Linked DNA regions of Homo sapiens. Changing the gene in region 2 together with the main gene of any one other region gives a genetic interaction. Each region holds a gene or a part of one and is shown on either strand. Other genes may lie near its edges.

Region 1 (3,651 bases), on a different chromosome or scaffold from region 2:
ACTGAGGTGTGAACTGGCCAAAGGAAGATGGGGTATCTTGTCGGCTGCTGGAGAAGCTTGTGTCCTGGGAGCAGGGGGTGCCGTTGCCAGGAGTGCCCACCGCAGTGGTGCCTGCTGGGTAGGCAGCTGTGTCAGAGGAAGAGCGGCGGCGGGATTCGGCCTAGAGCGACAGAGCAGGGCAAGGAGAGAGGAATGGGCTCAAACACCACTTGAGACCTGCCCTTTCCCAAACCAGGAATCCTAGTTCCCTTTTTTTTTTTTTGAGACGGAGTCTCGCTCTATTGCCCAGGCTGGAGTCCAGTGGCGTGATCTCGGCTCACTGCAAGCTCCGCCTCCCGGGTTCATGCCATTCTCCTGCCTCAGCCTCCCAAGTAGCTAGGACTACAGGCGCCCACCACCATGCCTGGCTAATTTTTTGCAGTTTTAGTAGAGATGGGGTTTCACCGTGTTAGTCAGGATGGTTTCAATCACCTGACCTCATGATCCACCCGCCTCGGCCTCCCAAAGTGCTGGGATTACAGGCGTGAGCCACTGTGCCTGGCCCCTAGTTCCCTGTCTTTTGAAAGCATCTCAGCAGCTTTGCTTGGCTCTTCTTTGTTTAACGGGAAAGCCCGGAACCTCCCGAAGACTGCTCCTGCTCCGGGCACCCGGACACCATGCCCACATGGCTAGGGGCTGTGGTAGCCACAAACTTCTCACCGTCTCAGTGGCTGCACCCGAGCCTTGGAACTTCTCACTCAGGGCCTTGCCCCCAGTGGGCACAGTCTGAGGGGTGTAGGAGCCATTGACAATTAGTTCATAGTATTTCATTCGTTGTTGTCCTGGAGGGAGGGAAATGGGAACCAATTGTCAGATGGAGATACTAACTCCTTCCTGATCTGGTATTCCTGCTTTCTCAGGCCTCAAGTTTCCTACAATTTCTTGGAATCTGGGTTTCAGGATTTCAGTTCTCCTACCATAACTCTACCTTTGGGACCTTCTACCTTATCTCTACCTCTAAACTACCACAAACAACATATTTTATGACACTTCACGATTTATCAAAAACACTTCTACTTATTTTACCATGTTGGATCACCAGAAGGGAAGCATCAGTACCTCTGTTCTAGAGGCTTAAAAGCGACCTACACAAAGTCACAGAATTGGTCATTGGAAAAATTGGAATTCAAACCCAGAGGCTCGATCACCCCATGCTCTTTATCCTGTAAACTAAAGCATGCAGAACAGCAACCGGGGGACTAACGGAGCCTGCAGGAGCTGTGGAGTGAACACCTCAGAAACACCTTGTGAGGAAAGAAACATGGTATTTAAAAACCATGAGATTTCACACAAAAACCCAAATTTCTGGCTTGAGTGCAGTGGCACGATGTAATCTCCACCTCCCAGGTTCAAGTGATTCTCATGCCTCAGCCTCTCGAGTAGCTGGGATTATAAGCATGAACCACCACGTCCGGATTTTTGTTATTTTTAATAGAAATGGGGTTTCACCATGTTGACCAGGCTGGTCTCGAGCTCCTGTCCTCAGGTGATCTGCCCACCTTGGCCTCTCAGAGTCTTGGGATTACAGGCGTGAGCCACCGCATGCCCGGCCCTGGCTTTCTTTTACAAACCAAATTCAAGAATGTTAAACCTCATTTCCACTTGCAAACTGGCCAGTGCCTACTAATGGCTGCCTCCTCCAGACAATACTGCAATCTGCAGCTCGCCACAGACCCCACTGCTCCCCATCACTCAACACAGAAGCCCAGACCACCTCGCTTGTGTTCACAGCTCCTTTACTCTCTATCTCAAATTTCCAAACCTAAAAACCCAGAAAATCCAGTATTTCTGAGAATCTGGCACCAAAACCTATATGGGTTATAGAATAGCATATAGAAAGATTAAAAAGAGGCCAGGCATGGTGGCTCATGCCTGTAATACCAGTACTTTGGGAGGCCGAGGCAGGCAGATCACTTGAGGTCAGGAGTTCAAGACCAGCCTGGCTAACAGGGTGAAACCCTATCTCTACTAAAAATACAAAAATTAGCCGGGCGTAGTGGCGCATAAATGTAATCCTAGCTACTCAAGAGGCTGAGGCAGAAGAATCACTTGAACCTGGGAGGTGGAGGTTGCAGTGAGCCAAGATCGTGCCACTGCACTCCAGCCTGGGCGACAGATTGAGATTCCATCTCAAAAAAAAAAAAAAAAAATTAAAAACAGGCTGGGCAGTGTAGTGAGACTTCATCTCTGCAAATAATCAAAAAAACTTTGGCCAGGTGTGGTGGTGCATGCCCATAATCCCAGCTACTCAGGAGGCTGGGGTGGCTGAGCCCAGGAGCTGGAGGCTGCAGTGAGGAAAGATCACGCCACTGCTCTCCAGCCTAGGTGACAGAGCAGGATCCTGTCTCAAAAACCAACCAAGCAACCAACCTGACCTGGGCTGATTTACTACAATCTATTCATCTTACCTAGTACAACCCTTCATATGATTTTTTTTTTTTTTTACAGATAGTTATGTGCTTGATTATGGCCTATTGCCCGACCTTGCTGGAGACACCACACACACAAAAATCCATGTACCATAATTCCACTCTAAAATCTGATCTGATTTCAGAAACACAACTGGCCCCAGCAGTTTCAGATCATGACCCTGGGCGCCTGCCTGACCCTGACAGGCATTTGCATGTACAACCTCCGCTGGAGGCCAAGCCTGAGTGGCAGGCAGAGGAGTCCTCACCTTTGATGTCAAGCTGGGCATGGATGATGTTGCCCATGACGGAGGTAAGGTGGAGGTTTTTGACCGTTTCCTTGGCGCCCCGAGTGCTGGTGAAGAGCACACGGGCCAGGCCCAGGTGCTTGCGCGTACGGGGGTGAAGGAGGATCTCTACCTCTTCCACCTCACCGTACTTACGGCACATATCCTTCAGGAAGGTCTCCCGCACGTTGTCATTCAGCCTTGCAAAAGTCACTTCCTTCAGTGGAATCTGTCCAATATAGAACTCGTCCAGCTGGGGAAAGAACAGGAGTTGGTATGGGGTCTCAACACTGACCACTGTTCCTTTGTCCTTCGGGAAACTTTAGCAAGCTCCATGAAGTCAAGAGAGAGATCCGGGAAAGTGAGGGGCAAGGGAAGGGGCCCAAAATAAGGGATCCATCAGACCTGACCCCTTTTCCCTGAATTCTTCTCACCACAGAATAACAGCAAGAATTAAGAACAGAAATGTGCAAACTAGGCCGGGTGTGGCAGCTCACACTTATAATCCCAACACTTTGGGAGGATGAGGTGGACGGATCACCAGAAGTCAGGAGTTCAAGACCAGCCTGTCCAACATGATAAAACCCTGTCTCTACTAAAAATACAAAAAAAAAAATTTAGCTGGATGTGATGGTGGGCACCTGTAATCCCAGCTACTCAGGAGGGTGAGGCAGGAGAATCACTTGAACCTGGCAGGCAGAGGTTGCACTAAGCCGAGATCACACCACTGCACTCCAGCCTGGGCAACACAGCGAGACTCCGTCTCAAAAAAAAAAAAAAAAAAAAAAAGAAAGAAAGAAAGAAATGTACACACTGAGGAATAAATATACGTGGAGAGAACGAGCTACAGGGCGATGATTTCCTAGCTCAGCCTTTACTAGGTAACTACCATGAACGAGGCACTGGAAATACAGAGA
Region 2 (2,903 bases):
AACTCTACCAAGATCTTCAAACTGCAACAAGCGTCAGCCTCTTCTTGATAGATTAGATATCTCCCGGTGATGTTATGAGGCCTGGTAAATCTTTAAAAGTAACTGTTTTGATTTATTTAACCATCATATTTATCAAGCAAATAAAAAATGTCCCTTCTTGCCTGAGTGCTTGTAGGCAGTAGTGCCCATGCTGGAGAGGAAGGTTAGAGCCCTTGCAGGAGCCCCGGGTAGGTTAGAAGAGGCCCCAGTTCTCTGCCTGGGGACAGGGGACGGGAGGACATGGAGGCAAGAGTGAGCCACTTGGGAAGCTGCATACCTCCTTGGGCACCAGCCACACTTGAGTCAGTTGAATACAGCACACTGGCCGTGATGCTATTCATGCATACTGCAGGGCCGCACATGCCTCCTGGAGGGTGCCGGGCCGGCAGTGCTGGGCAGGCGTTGGCTCCCTGCCCACCAACCCAGGTCTCAGTTTCTCTTATGCTGCACAGTGAGAAATCTGAGCAACATTGTCTTTAAAGCACTTTAGAAATGGGGCACTTGAGGTCAGTCACCGTTGATCATGTTTTTTATCCTTTAAAAGATCATTAAAATCCGTGCCCAGACGGAAGGAATCAACATCAGTGAGGAGGCACTGAACCACCTGGGGGAGATTGGCACCAAGACCACACTGAGGTGAGCTGGTACCCTGGGCCCGCCGGGGCCTCCCCAGCACAGCCAGGGCCCTCGCTGGGGTCATTCTGGACAATAAAGGCAGGTCCCTTCCTAGGGCATGGGACTCTATCCATCCGCTCTTCCTGGCGCGATGGGTGCCAGGGCACTTGAGTTTCAAATGCAGAGGATCTATCTGATGGTTTTTAACAAGCTAGAGTAAGGGTGAAGTCCCCATGTCCTGCAGCAGATGCTCCCCTCTGGTGGAGAGTGCTTTGACCCTGGGCCTTCTTGTGGCAGAGAAGATGCACAGAACTAGAGAGCAGGGACCATGTGGTAGCTCATTAGCCAGGGCCCTGGCTCCTGTTCTCCCGGTGGTGTTATGAGGCCTGGTAAATCTTTAACTTTTTTGATTTATTTAACCATCAAGCAAATAAAAAATGTCTGGGTGGTGGATATGGAGAGCCAGGGAGGAGCGCAGACATAGACAGTTCTCCTAATTGTTCTCCAGCGGCTCAAACACAGGACCGGCAGAGCATGTCCCTTCACAGTGGCCTGACTCATTGTAAAATCATTGCTTCACAGTCCTCAGCCCTTCCCTACATCCCTTGAGTCAGTTCTTGCTCCTGAGGTTGAAGGCAGAAATGCAAGCTGTGAGGTTTGGATGAAGGGGTACTTTTTAAAACGGCAGAGTCTTCATGCCTTTGGATGGGCATGTACTTCCAGCTGGCTATGTTTTCATTTCCCTGCCATGTTAAATATCCCTATCTGTCGGACACCTGTATACATATAAGTTTGCAGTCCTTTTCCAGTAGCAGTGACATTACTTCCTACTGGAGGATTTGTAGACTGTACTAAAGATTTGGGGAATAGCACTTATGTCTTCTTGGTGGCTCCTGGACCCTCTCTGATGGGATAATGACTGCAGCTCTCTGAGAAGTGACAACTTTGTCTCCCCTTTTCTGTGTTCGTAGCAGCTGGCACAAGCCCAGCACTGGGCTCTGCTCCTGGTGCCAGTGCTGCCTACTGATGTGGGGGGAAGGTGCTTTCTTCGGTGGCCCCAGTTTCACTCCAGCCCTGGCCCCTGTCCACTCTAGGTACTCAGTGCAGCTGCTGACCCCGGCCAACTTGCTTGCTAAAATCAACGGGAAGGACAGCATTGAGAAAGAGCATGTCGAAGAGATCAGTGAACTTTTCTATGATGCCAAGTCCTCCGCCAAAATCCTGGCTGACCAGCAGGATAAGTACATGAAGTGAGATGGCTGAGGTTTTCAGCAGTAAGAGACTCCCCAGGTGTGCCTGGCCTGGGTCCAGCCTGTGGGCGCTTGCCCCTGGGCTTGGGGCTGCCGTCCCCACTCAGGCGTGGTCTGCAGCGCTGTCAGTTCAGTGTGGAAAGCATTTCTTTTTAAGTTATCGTAACTGTTCCTGTGGTTGCTTTGAAAGAACCCTTCCTTACCTGGTGTGTTTTCTATAAATCTTCATAGGTTATTTTGATTCTCTCTCTCTCTCTCTCTAAGTTTTTTAAAAATAAACTTTTCAGAACAGTTTTAGATGTACAGAGTCATTGTGAACATACAATAGGGAGTTCCCATGTATCTTGTACCCAGTTTCCCTTCTTGTTAACGTGTTACATCAGATAGCACATTTGTCACCGTGAATGACCAATACTGATGCATTATTCTACTGCGTTCACATTTTCTCAGTTTTACCTAATGTCCTTTTTCTGTCCCAGGATCCCATCCAGGATAACCCATTACAACTAGTTGTCATGTCTCCTTAGATGCCTCTTGGCTGTGACATCTTCTTAGATTTTCCTTGTTCTTGATGACCCTGACAGTTTTGAGGAGGACTGATCAGGTATCTGTAGAACATCCCTCAGTTGGGGTTTGTCTGATGCTTTTCTCATGAGTAGACTGGGATTGTGGGTTATGGAGAGGAAGACTAGAGGTGAAATGTGGTTCTGATCACATCGTATCATGTGTGGTTCTCATCACATGCTAGCAACATGACTCATCGTTGATGGTGAGCTTGACCCTTTGGCTGAGGTCATGTTTGTCGGGTCTTCTCACTGTAAAGTTACTCTCTGCTGCCTTTCCATACTGAATTCTTTGGAAGGAAGTCACTATATGCAGCCCACACTTAAGTGGCAGGGGTTATGCTCACCTCTAGAGAACTGAGTATTTACCAAAATTATTTGGGATTCTGCATGGAAGATTGTATCAGAATGGACTTACGGAAGTTCATTGTATACT
Region 3 (3,651 bases), on a different chromosome or scaffold from region 2:
CGAGAAGGAGGTGAAGCCCCCACCCAAGGAGAAGATTGAAGGGACCCTTGGGGTTCTTTACGACCAGCCACGACACGTGCAGTACGCCACCCATTTTCCCATCCCCCAGGTACTATTCCCCAGCACCTTGTGATGATCTGTTTTGAACCCAGATTGCTGTCAAAGGAATTTGCTGAGGGGTTGGAGCTGTTCTGAGGATGTGGGTTGGGAAAGGGAAGGGCTTTAGCATGTGGATGCTGAGGGGTGTGGAGCATGCTTTCAAGAGGAGGGAAGGAGATCGGTGCTGGAGTCTGATGGTGCTGCTGGGATGCAGGAGGAGTCATGCAGCCATGAGTGCAACCAGCGGTTGGTCGTACTGTTTGGGGTGGGAAAGCAGCGAGATGATGCCCGCCATGCCATCAAGAAAATCACCAAGGATATCTTGAAGGTTCTGAACCGCAAAGGGACAGCAGAAACTGGTGGGTTTGAGGCTCCTTAAACAGATCTCCCCCAAAGAATGCCCTAGTCAGTCTTCCCTTCCCCAGTATAGGGAACTCCCCAGTCATGTCCCAATGTCCTGTCTCTTGGAGTCTCCTGAGAGCTCTAGTCCTTTTGAAACTTCCCCCCTCATTCCCCCCCTCTACAGACCAGCTTGCTCCTATTGTGCCTCTGAATCCTGGAGACCTGACATTCTTAGGTACCTCACAGTAAGCCCCATACTGCCCTCCCTCCCTCTCCCTTCCCTCCCTGAACCTAGCACCTCCCTGTACATATTCCTTTAAGGTCCACATAGTCTGTGGTCCTCTAAACCTTTGCTTCACTGTCCCCTTCCCTTCATTCCTCCCCCATCCCTTCCTTGACCCTCCCTTCCCTGTTTCCCTCTTCCTTCCTTCCCTCCCTCCCTCCTTCCATCTCTCCCTCCCTCCCTCCCATAGCCTTCTCTCCATACCCCACTCCCCACCCCTAGTCAACTAGTTATCTTCCCTGTCTTGACTGGTCCCTTTCAACTGTCCCCTCAGGTGGGGAGGATGGGCAGAAGCGGCGACGCAACCGGCCTGAAGCCTTCCCCACTGCTGAAGATATCTTTGCTAAGTTCCAGCACCTTTCACATTATGACCAACACCAGGTCACGGCTCAGGTGTGGGCCTAAGCCCAGCCCCTTTCCCACATTCTGGCCTCCTGTTCTGTTTTCCTTTTCTTCCCTATCTTCTCCCTGCTAGGCAGGCTAAGCCTCCTGGTCTCATCCCCTTCCAGTGTCATCCTTTCCTCCTTCCCTGGTTCTTTCCTCTCTCCACTCCCATCTCACTCCCACTGCCCTTATCAGGTCTCCCGGAATGTTCTGGAGCAGATCACGAGCTTTGCCCTTGGCATGTCATACCACTTGCCTCTGGTGCAGCATGTGCAGTTCATCTTCGACCTCATGGAATATTCACTCAGCATCAGTGGCCTCATCGACTTTGCCATTCAGGTGGGGAAGTTGGGGAGATGAGGGTGGAGGCAGGAGTTCATGCCATATAGCGGCTACGGAGGGTCATAAGGACAGGCGTAGAGGCTCCAGCCAGTTTCCCAAGCTATTTGAAGGGGCAGAAAGACTAGCATGGGGGGAGTGGAACATGAGCTAAGACTGCAGGAATAGAGACTTAAGTGCTCCCTGGGGAGGCCAAGAGGCAGATTAGAGCATTGGGCACAGACCATCCTCCCACTGTGGAGTTCATAGAACTGTATCCTGGACACTGGTTAGAGGTGTTGTTGATAGAATAAACTATCAACAATAAACTATCAATAGAGGTGTTGTTGATAGACTGTGGCATAGGGTAACGAGCCCTTCTATCCTGTGGTGGCTCCAGCAGGAAGGGGCTCAGGCCCAGCCTTGCCAGCGTCCCCACAGGAAGGTGGTTTCTATGTAACACAAGGGGCCTCTTTGCATTTCTCACCCCCGTTTACTCTGCTAGCTGCTGAATGAACTGAGTGTAGTTGAGGCTGAGCTGCTTCTCAAATCCTCGGATCTGGTGGGCAGCTACACTACTAGCCTGTGCCTGTGCATCGTGGCTGTCCTGCGGCACTATCATGCCTGCCTCATCCTCAACCAGGACCAGATGGCACAGGTCTTTGAGGGGTAAGCAGAGCTTCGGAATAACTGAAACAAAGCTCTGGCGAATGCCGGTGGAAGTGGCCTGGGAAGAGCATGCACTTCCTCACACTCTGGGGAAGCACCTGCTGCTCAGGTGGGAAAAGAATGGTATTTCCCAGAGGCTTGAATCTGTTTGGAGGAGCCCGCATACCATCTGCTGACCCTCCCAACCTTGCTTCTTCATGCAGGCTGTGTGGCGTCGTGAAGCATGGGATGAACCGGTCCGATGGCTCCTCTGCAGAGCGCTGTATCCTTGCTTATCTCTATGATCTGTACACCTCCTGTAGCCATTTAAAGAACAAATTTGGGGAGCTCTTCAGGTAAGAGAGGTGGAAGGTAAGGGGTAGCGAGTGGGACCTACTCCCTTCTTCCCATGACCACCCAACTCAGGAGGAGAGGATGGCCCGGGACCCTGCTGCCTGTCTAGGGTCATTTGTGGACTGTGTCCTCCACATACTGTTGTGTTACCAAGAGTGGGCCCTCTTCCTCAGCAGGCTTGCTCCCCGCCTATATCTGTGGGGCCCACCCTCTTCCCCCTTTTCCTCACTGCCTTCAGAGGCCCCAGTTCCTTATTCCCATGTGGTTCCTTTCCTGCCCAGTCTGTTTTGTCCCATCTCCCTTTTCTTGTCTCAAGATCCTTCATCCCTCACTTTCTCCTTTTTTTCTTTTCTCCCCTTTCCTGACCATCCCTCGACCTCAGCAGGCCTTCTTCAACACTACTATCTCCTTTCCTCCATCCCTGCAGCGACTTTTGCTCAAAGGTGAAGAACACCATCTACTGCAACGTGGAGCCATCGGAATCAAATATGCGCTGGGCACCTGAGTTCATGATCGACACTCTAGAGAACCCTGCAGCTCACACCTTCACCTACACGGGGCTAGGCAAGAGTCTTAGTGAGAACCCTGCTAACCGCTACAGCTTTGTCTGCAATGCCCTTATGCACGTCTGTGTGGGGCACCATGATCCCGATAGGTATGGGGTGTACTGAGTGAGGAAGGGCACCATGCCCCCATCTGAGATAGGGAGGGCTGAGGTACCCGGGAGGTACTACAACCTTGATTATTTAGTGGGGCAGAGATGAGAAGTTAATGGGTCTGAGGTTTTGTGGAGCAAGGTTTTTCCTGAGGGCATTTGTACTTTTCCCTAGGGTGAATGACATCGCAATCCTGTGTGCAGAGCTGACCGGCTATTGCAAGTCACTGAGTGCAGAATGGCTAGGAGTGCTTAAGGCCTTGTGCTGCTCCTCTAACAATGGCACTTGTGGTTTCAACGATCTCCTCTGCAATGTTGATGTGAGACTTGGGGTGGGGTTTTGCTAGTGGGGCAGTGACCAGGGCAGGGGGCTGGTTGTGATCCTCTGACCAGGGACAGAGTTCCGTAGAGTGGAGGCACACCGCTTTGAGTGGGCCTCCACACTGAGTCATGGTGTCTGTCTGTTTTTTCCTCCAGGTCAGTGACCTATCTTTTCATGACTCGCTGGCTACTTTTGTTGCCATCCTCATCGCTCGGCAGTGTTTGCTCCTGGAAGATCTGATTCGCT

The links.
Region 1: changes in RUVBL1 (region 2) and SETD1A together harm fitness less than expected from each alone (positive genetic interaction), as found in Homo sapiens cells (one large-scale study listed by BioGRID).
Region 3: changes in RUVBL1 (region 2) and MED12 together harm fitness less than expected from each alone (positive genetic interaction), as found in Homo sapiens cells (one large-scale study listed by BioGRID).

Annotation. Positions count from the first base shown.
Region 1 is NC_000016.10:30,960,603-30,964,253, reverse strand, and holds part of SETD1A (histone-lysine N-methyltransferase SETD1A), read right to left. Parts: intron 2,988-3,651; coding exon 2,717-2,987; intron 822-2,716; coding exon 700-821; intron 161-699; coding exon 1-160. UniProt on the Homo sapiens protein: Histone methyltransferase that catalyzes methyl group transfer from S-adenosyl-L-methionine to the epsilon-amino group of 'Lys-4' of histone H3 (H3K4) via a non-processive mechanism.
Region 2 is NC_000003.12:128,080,255-128,083,157, reverse strand, and holds the end of RUVBL1 (ruvB-like 1), read left to right. Parts: intron 1-583; coding exon 584-675; intron 676-1,748; coding exon 1,749-1,908; 3' UTR 1,909-2,348; downstream 2,349-2,903. UniProt on the Homo sapiens protein: Possesses single-stranded DNA-stimulated ATPase and ATP-dependent DNA helicase (3' to 5') activity; hexamerization is thought to be critical for ATP hydrolysis and adjacent subunits in the ring-like structure contribute to the ATPase activity.
Region 3 is NC_000023.11:71,125,038-71,128,688, forward strand, and holds part of MED12 (mediator of RNA polymerase II transcription subunit 12), read left to right. Parts: coding exon 1-109; intron 110-313; coding exon 314-458; intron 459-625; coding exon 626-676; intron 677-998; coding exon 999-1,117; intron 1,118-1,303; coding exon 1,304-1,447; intron 1,448-1,931; coding exon 1,932-2,095; intron 2,096-2,298; coding exon 2,299-2,430; intron 2,431-2,855; coding exon 2,856-3,083; intron 3,084-3,258; coding exon 3,259-3,403; intron 3,404-3,560; coding exon 3,561-3,651. UniProt on the Homo sapiens protein: Component of the Mediator complex, a coactivator involved in the regulated transcription of nearly all RNA polymerase II-dependent genes.